2 linked regions of the Homo sapiens genome follow. The protein of the gene in region 2 interacts with the protein of the main gene of each other region in a pairwise test. Each region holds a gene or a part of one and is shown on either strand. Other genes may lie near its edges.

Region 1 (4,108 bases), on a different chromosome or scaffold from region 2:
TCATCTTCCAAGGACAAAACAAGCATTTATCAGAGGCCTACTGGACACCCTGCCTCCACTCCTGCCCCCTCCAATCCAAGTTCCAAACTGCAGCCAGAGTGACCTTCTAAAAACACAAACTTGTCATGATGATGAAATTTGCAAAGTGCTGACTGACACTACTGGTACGTGGTAAGTACTATAAAATGCCCGTTACATAAACACAGTACATATAATGCCATTCCTTGTTTAAACCCCTCCAAGGATCACATGCAACCTTCTCTGCCTGCCTCTGCCTTCTACTTCCCACCGTGCTCTCTCTTGCTAGCCTTACTCCGGGTCGCATTTAATTCCTCCGGAGCCAAGCTACCTCCTGGCCCAACCAAATGCCTTTCCCTCTTTCCTTAAAGCAGTCTCCCCAGATCCACTCCTCTTCATTTGACCAGTTTCAACTCCTTCTTTATATCTCAGCTTAAATGCTGCTTCTTCAGCCCTCCTGAACCTCCCAGAGGAAGCTTAGGTTCCTCCATATTTATCCTCTTATAGCCATAACATTGATCACAACTGTAATCACATACTCCATGTTTTAGGTTGTTTAATGCCTGCCTCCCTTACTAGGCTGTAGACTCCCCAGGACAAGGGCTATAGGTCTTTCCGTCTCTCTTGTTTACGGCCTATCAAGGAACTCGGACAGCATAGGTCACTAATGAACATTTCCGAATGCATACAAACTTTAAAATACGGTCTTGTTTAGGTAACCGGCCCAAAGTCGCACAAATGACCCAATATTTGAACCCACGACATTCTGGCTTTGAAGCCCAAGGTCTGACTCCAGCAGACTGCCCCCTCCTCTCCCTCAAAGCCGGAGCCAAACGGTGGGCTGGGAGGGGACTTGAGCGGCAGAGTCTGAGGATCTGCAGAGGGCCACGCGCTGCAAGGCAGTCAGTGCCGCGCGCGCTGGCCTCGGGCCCAGGAGAAGGGGCATCCGTCACGTGTACCCGGCAGGGCCAGCTTTCGCCGCACCCTGGGGCAGGAATGCAGCCCCGCCCAGCTCCCGCGCCAGCAAAACCGCGCTGGCCCTGGGGACTGACGTCAATGAAGGGGGCGCCTCGGGCGCCGCGCGGGGGCGGAGAGGGCGGTGGGCAGGGCCCGGGCAGACACGCCCCCTCACCGCCGCTCCGCCGCCGATTAGGTTTGAGGAAGCTTCGCACTCCGCTTTCGAGGCCAGCGGAGGCGGGGGGCGGGGATGGACACGCCCCCTCCCTGTCTCCCACCGATGATTGGCGCACGGAACTCCGCCTTGGGTTTGGAAGGCTCGCCTGGGAGCTCATACCTGGCTAGGGCCGAGGATTGGCTGTTCCGGGGCTAGGGAGCGCTTTCTCCCGGGAACCGCGGCTGTGACCCAAGTGGCCCGGACCAGTTTGGGGCTGCGTGCGGCCTGCCTCAAGCAACCAGGTACGTAGGTCGGCGGCCCAGCTCGGCGCTGCGGTGGGAGCCGGAGGGCGACAGTCAGAGCCGGGGTGCCAGCGGGACGCGACCGCCAGATCCACTTAGGACCCCGTCGTTCTGCGAAGCGGCCACGTCTGAGTCCCGGGGCCTCCTCGTGCTGCAGATGTCGCCTTAGGACCTCGGCCAGGATACCCTCTGCCATGCTCTTGTGCTGCCCGTGATCACCGACTGGCCCTTGTAAGCACCTTCGCAGAGCTGCGCCTGCCCTTTCTGAAGGCTGTGGAAGAGGTTGGAGTGGGCGCATCTTAGCTTGCCCCATCCCCATTTGAGGTCTGTCGGAGCTGCCCTTCAGTGTGGTGAGTACCTGCTCCAATTCTCCACCGGGCAGTGGAGTGCAGAGGGTACAGAGGCTAGCTTGGGAGTCCTGACTTTGGATCCCTCCCTGCTCCTTCCACAATCTACAGAAGCAGATAGCCTCCGAAAGGCTTCTGGGACCGACCTTCCCCAGAAGACCTCCTCAGCCATCTGGCAGGAACAAAAATAACAGTGGCTTGAGAGCCCGGGTGCTGGGGTCAGACTGCCTGGGTTCATGTCCCAGCTTCCATCACCTGCCAGCTGTGTGACTTTGGGTGTAGCTTTCTCATCTGTAAAATGGGTATAACAATAGTGCCACCTTAAGTGAGGAGGAAAGAAAGCACCCATCTGAACGTGCTCTGTTCTGCGCTTGACACTGAACAAGCTGCCTCTATGATTTTAATCATAAAGCTATGATTTAAAAGTACACAGATTTGTTGATGGCTGTGATGATGAAAATGACAATGATTCTATAGCCCCTGGTAGTCAAACAGCCTTTCCCTTCATCATTTATTCATTCAACCAGCATGCATAGAATGTCTGTGGTATACCAGGTACTAGAAGGAATGCCGTCACAAACTTAATCTCCCTTTTCCTGTTAAGAGTTATTTATACTCACCATTTATTTTAAAAAGCTTATTTAAAATTTTATAGAGGCAGTCTTGCTATGTTGACCAGGCTGGTCTGGAACTCCTGGGCTCAAGCAATCCTCCCACCTCAGCCTCCCAAAGTGCTGGGATTACAGGCGTGAGCCACCAGGCCTGGCCTTATACTATTTTGATGACGAGCAACTTGTGGCAGGGGAAACTGAGACTTATCCAAGGTCACCCAGTTAGCAGCACAGCCAGAATTCAGGGTTCTAGAAATCTTGAAAGGGTTATCCCTAGATCTAGTAGCAGTTTATTTCCAGGTCATATATGAGAACTGGTCTGGGGAAAGGGCCCAGTTCCTTTCTCCACCTCCAGGGGCATGGATTTGGAGGCCAATGTATATCCAGTTGTCTCGGCATACCTCCCTGAGGCTAGGCCCTGCTGGTGGGGAAGCCCACACAGCGATTTGAACTGGGCTTCCCATTTGAGGAGCCACAGATTTTGGCTGCTGTCCAGTGGCATGTCTGTATAGGATAGCAGGCCAGGGTCCCAAGTGTTGATTCAGGCCTTGGGCCAGAGCCTCCAGTAATTTTTCTAAGAGCCCCTAGGCCCCTGATTACAGAGATTATTGCTATCACCTGGGTTATTGGAAGGGGGCCTCCTCCTGCATGAGGACCTAGGAGTTGCCAGCTCACCCAAATGTGTTCTGCCTCTGGTGGTTACCTGTGCCTCCCTGGGACTGCAGTGAGATACTCTCCTAGAATAGCTGTCTGAACTGAACTTCATATATTGCAAAGAGTGCTCAATTGCGCGCCATATTTATATATTGCAAATTCATTGCATGGTGAGTCACTTTTTAAATATATTTCTTTGTTAGGGTTCCACAGTTCTTCACTTATTGCCTGTTTCAAAACAAGTTGAACTTTGTCATTTTCAATGTTTGGTATTTCCTTTGGGGTTCACTTTCAACCTAGTTTGTGTCAAATTGAAGTATTTTGCAATTGGTCTTTACTCGTTTGTACACAGACCCATACTTACCTTCTTTTATGTCAGTTCTGAAATGAAAGGTCCATTTGTAATCTTTTAATAGCCCCATGGTTTCATTTTCTAGTTTTCAAAAGTACTATTGTGCAAGTATACACTGACTTTTCCTGGACTAAGGTCTTCTCCAGGAAATTGGAGGGAAAATAACTATTGAACACATGGAATGAGACAGGAAAAGTTTCCTTTGATAATAAAAGTGTTCTGATTCGACATTTCATCGGTTTTCCCAAAACTTAACCATCTAATCCTACCTGGAATCAGCCTAGTTTTATTCCCAGCCTCACTCTGCTGTCTGAATCCCAGAATAAGAGACAGAGCCAAGAGTGAGGGGCTTGGCCGGTCATGGTGGCTCACGCCTATAATCCCAACACTCTGGGAGGATGAGGTGGGTGGATCACTTGAGGTCGGGAGTTCAAGACCAGCCTGGCCAACATGGTGAAACCTTGTCTCTACTAAAAATACAAAAATTAGTCGGGCGTGTGGTGGGCACCTGTAATCCCAGCTACTTGGGAGGTTGTTGAGGCAAGAAAATTGCTTGAACCTTGGAGGCAGAGGTTGCAGTGAGCTGAGATTGCGCCACTGCACTCCAGCGTGGGTGACAGAGTGAGACTCCGCCTCAAAAAAAAAAAAAAAAAAGAGTAAAAAGAGTGAGGGGCCTCAAAATCTGGAGGTGCTAGGCCCTCCCTAAGGTT
Region 2 (3,500 bases):
TTGGGAGGCTGAAACAGAGAACTGCTTGAACCCAGGAGGCGGAGGTTGCAGTGAGCCGCTACTGTGCCACTACACTCCAGCCTGGGCGACAGAGCAAGACTCCGTCTCAAAATGAATAAATAAATAAATAAATAGGATTTTAAGAGTACTATAAACAACCGTATGCCAACAAATTGGATTATCTAGATATAATGGATAAATCCCGAGAAACAAACAACCTAGCTAGATTAAATTATGAAGAAACAGAAGATCTGAATATATTTGAAATAAGGATTTTAAGTAGTAATCAAAACCCTCCCAACAAAGTAAACCCCAGGACAAGATGGCTTCATGGGTAATTCTACCAAACATTTAAAGAAGAACAAACACCAGTCTTTCTCAAAGTCTTCCAAAAACTTGAAGAAGGAGGAACACTTGAAACTCATTCTATGTGACCAGCATTATCCTGATACCAAAGCCAGAGAAAGATACTAGAAAACTATACAGCCATATCTCTTACGAATACTGATACAAGAATACTCAACAAAATGCAGGTAAAACAAATTCGGCAGTGTAGCAAAAGGATTATACAAGATCACCAAGTGGCATTTATTCTAGGAATGCAAAATGGTTCAAACACATAAAAATCAATTAATGTAGTACACCCTATGAACAGAATAAAGGGGAAAAACAAAGATCATCTCAACTGATGCAGAAAAACATCTGACAAAATTCAACACCCTTCCCTCATCAGAAAAAAAAAAAATAGAAGGAAACTTAAACTCACCAACATAAGGCTATATACGAAAAACCCGCAACTAACAAGATACTCAATGATGAATGGAAGATTGAAAGCTTTTCCCCTAAGATCAGGAGCTAGACAAATATGCCTGCTTTTACCACTTCTATTCAACGCAGTATTGGGAGGTCTAGCCAGACCAATCAGGCAAGAAAAATAAATAACGCATCCAAATTGGAAAGGAAGAAGCAAAATTTATCTCTGCTATAAGAGACGTGATTATATATGTAGAGAACACTAGAGATTACACAAAAAGTAGTTAGAGCTAACAATTAGACATTGCAGGACACAAAATCAACACAAAAATCAACTATGCTTCTACACACTAACAATGAACAATTATGAAAATTAAGAAAACGATTCCATTTACAATGGCATCAGAATAATAAAGTACTTAGAAATAAGTTTAACCAAAAAGGCGAAAAAAGCCTTGTACACTGAAAACTACATCCCCGAAAAAATCAAGGAAGACAAGGAAATGGAGAACCATCCCATGTTCATGGATTGGAAGGCTTAATATAAGGTGACAATACTAACTGAAGCTATGTACAGACTCAATGTATTCCTTCTCAAACTCTCAGTGACTTCTTTCGTAAAAACAAAAGTCCATCCTAAAATTAATGTGGAATCTCAAAGGACCCTAAATAGCCAAAACAATCTTAAAAAAGAAGAACAGACCAGGCGCAGTGGCTCACACCTGAAATCCTAGCACTTTGGGAGGCTGAGGTGGGCAGACTGCCTGAACTCAGGAGTTTCAGACCACCCTGGGCAACATGGTGAAACCCCATCTCTACTAAAATACAAAAAAAAATTAGCCAGGCATGGCAGCATGTGCCTGTAGTCCCGGCTACTCGGGAGGCTGAGGCAGGAGAATTGCTTGAACCCAGGAGGCAGAGGTTACAGTGAGCCGAGATTGCACCACTGCACCCTAGCCTAGGTGACAGAACAAGACTCCATCCCTTAAAAAAGAAAAAAAAAAAAAAGAACAGTGTTAGAGGACTCACATTTCCTGACTTCAATACTTACTACAAAGCTATAGTAATCAAAACAGTGTGGTCTTGGCATAAAGGCAGACATATATATCAATGGAAATGAATAAAGAGCCCAGATACAAACCCTTGCATATACAGTTAACTAATTTTCAACAAGGATGCCAAGAATAATGGCAAAGAACAGTATTTTCAACAAACAGTGCTGGGAAAATTGGATTAGGTTGGACCCTTACCTTAAGCCATCTATAAAAACTAACTCAAGATGGATCAAAGATCTAAATATAAGAGCTAAAACTATAAAACTCATGGAAGAAAATACAGGGGAAAAGTTTCATGACACTGAATTTGGCAATAATTTCTTGGATATGGCAACAAAAGAAAAATAAATAAACTAGACCTCAAAATTAAAAACTTTTGTGCAAAGGGCGCTATCAAGACAGTGAAAAGGCAACCTATATAGAATGAGAGAAAATATTTGCAAATAATATCTAATAAGGGATTAATATCCAAGATATATAAATAACTCACTTAACAACTACAAAAACCCAGTTAAGAAATGGGCAAAGGACTTGAATTAACATTTCTTCAAAGAAGAGGTACAGGTGACCAACGGGCACAAGAAAAAAATTCTTAACATCACTAATCATTGGGGAAATGCAAAACAAAACCACGATGAGATACCACTTTATGCACATTAGAATGGCCATTAAAAAAAAATCCAGGAAAGAACTAGGGCTGGCAAAGACGTGAAGAAATTGGAACACTCGTGCACTGCTTATGATGATATAAAATGACACAGCCACTGTGCCAAACAGTATAGTGGTTTCTGAAAAAATTGAATTTAGTATTATCATATAACCCAGCAATTCTACTTTTAGGAACACACACCCAGAACAACTGAAAGCAGGGACTGAAGCAGATATTTGTATGCCAATGTTTATTCATTGGTATTTACAATAGCCAAAAGGTGGAAACAACCGACAACATAAATAGATGAGTAAATAAAGATGGTATGTACACATAAGAGTATTATTCAGACTTTAAAAGAAATGACGTCAGGCACAGTGTCTTATGCCTCTAATCCCAGCACTTTGGGAGGCCAAGACAGGAGGATTGCTTGAGCCCAGGAGTTCAAGACCAACCTGGGCAACACAGAGACTCCATCTCTACCAGAAATTTTAAAAAGAAAAATTAGCCAAGCAGGGTAGTACATACCTATAGTCCCAGCTACTCAAGAGGTTGCAGTGGGAGGATCACTTGAGCCCAGGAGGTCAAGGCGCAGTGAGCCACGATAGCACCACTGCACTCCAGCCTGGGCAACAGAGTGAGACCCTGTCTCAAAAGAGAAATAATTGAAAAAAAATTCTGATACATACTATAACATGGATAAACTTTAATAACAATGTTAAGTGAAATGAGCCAGTGACAAAAGGACAAATACCATATGATTCCACTCATATGAGATACCTAGGATAGTCATATCCTCAGAGACAGAAACTAAAACAGAAGTAACCAGGGGCTGGAGGAAGAGGTCATAGGGGTAATTGTTTAGTAGGTAGAGAGTTTCAGTTTAAAATGATGAAAAAGCTCATGAGAGATCAGTGATGGCGGCACAACATTGTGACTATACTTAGTAACACTGAAAGGTTAAAAATAGTACCTTTTATTATGTATATCTTACCACAATAAAAAGCCCCACAGGGTAGTCAATGTTATGTTTAAAAGAGAAG

What was found. The genes of interacting proteins can lie anywhere in the genome.
Region 1: the proteins of CDCA7L (region 2) and AVPI1 interact in binary tests that used the Homo sapiens proteins (3 or more experiments, as listed by UniProt).

The regions. Positions count from the first base shown.
Region 1 is NC_000010.11:97,684,442-97,688,549, reverse strand, and holds the start of AVPI1 (arginine vasopressin-induced protein 1), read left to right. Parts: upstream 1-1,308; 5' UTR 1,309-1,784; intron 1,785-4,108. UniProt on the Homo sapiens protein: May be involved in MAP kinase activation, epithelial sodium channel (ENaC) down-regulation and cell cycling.
Region 2 is NC_000007.14:21,935,900-21,939,399, forward strand, and holds part of CDCA7L (cell division cycle-associated 7-like protein), read right to left. Parts: intron 1-3,500. UniProt on the Homo sapiens protein: Plays a role in transcriptional regulation as a repressor that inhibits monoamine oxidase A (MAOA) activity and gene expression by binding to the promoter.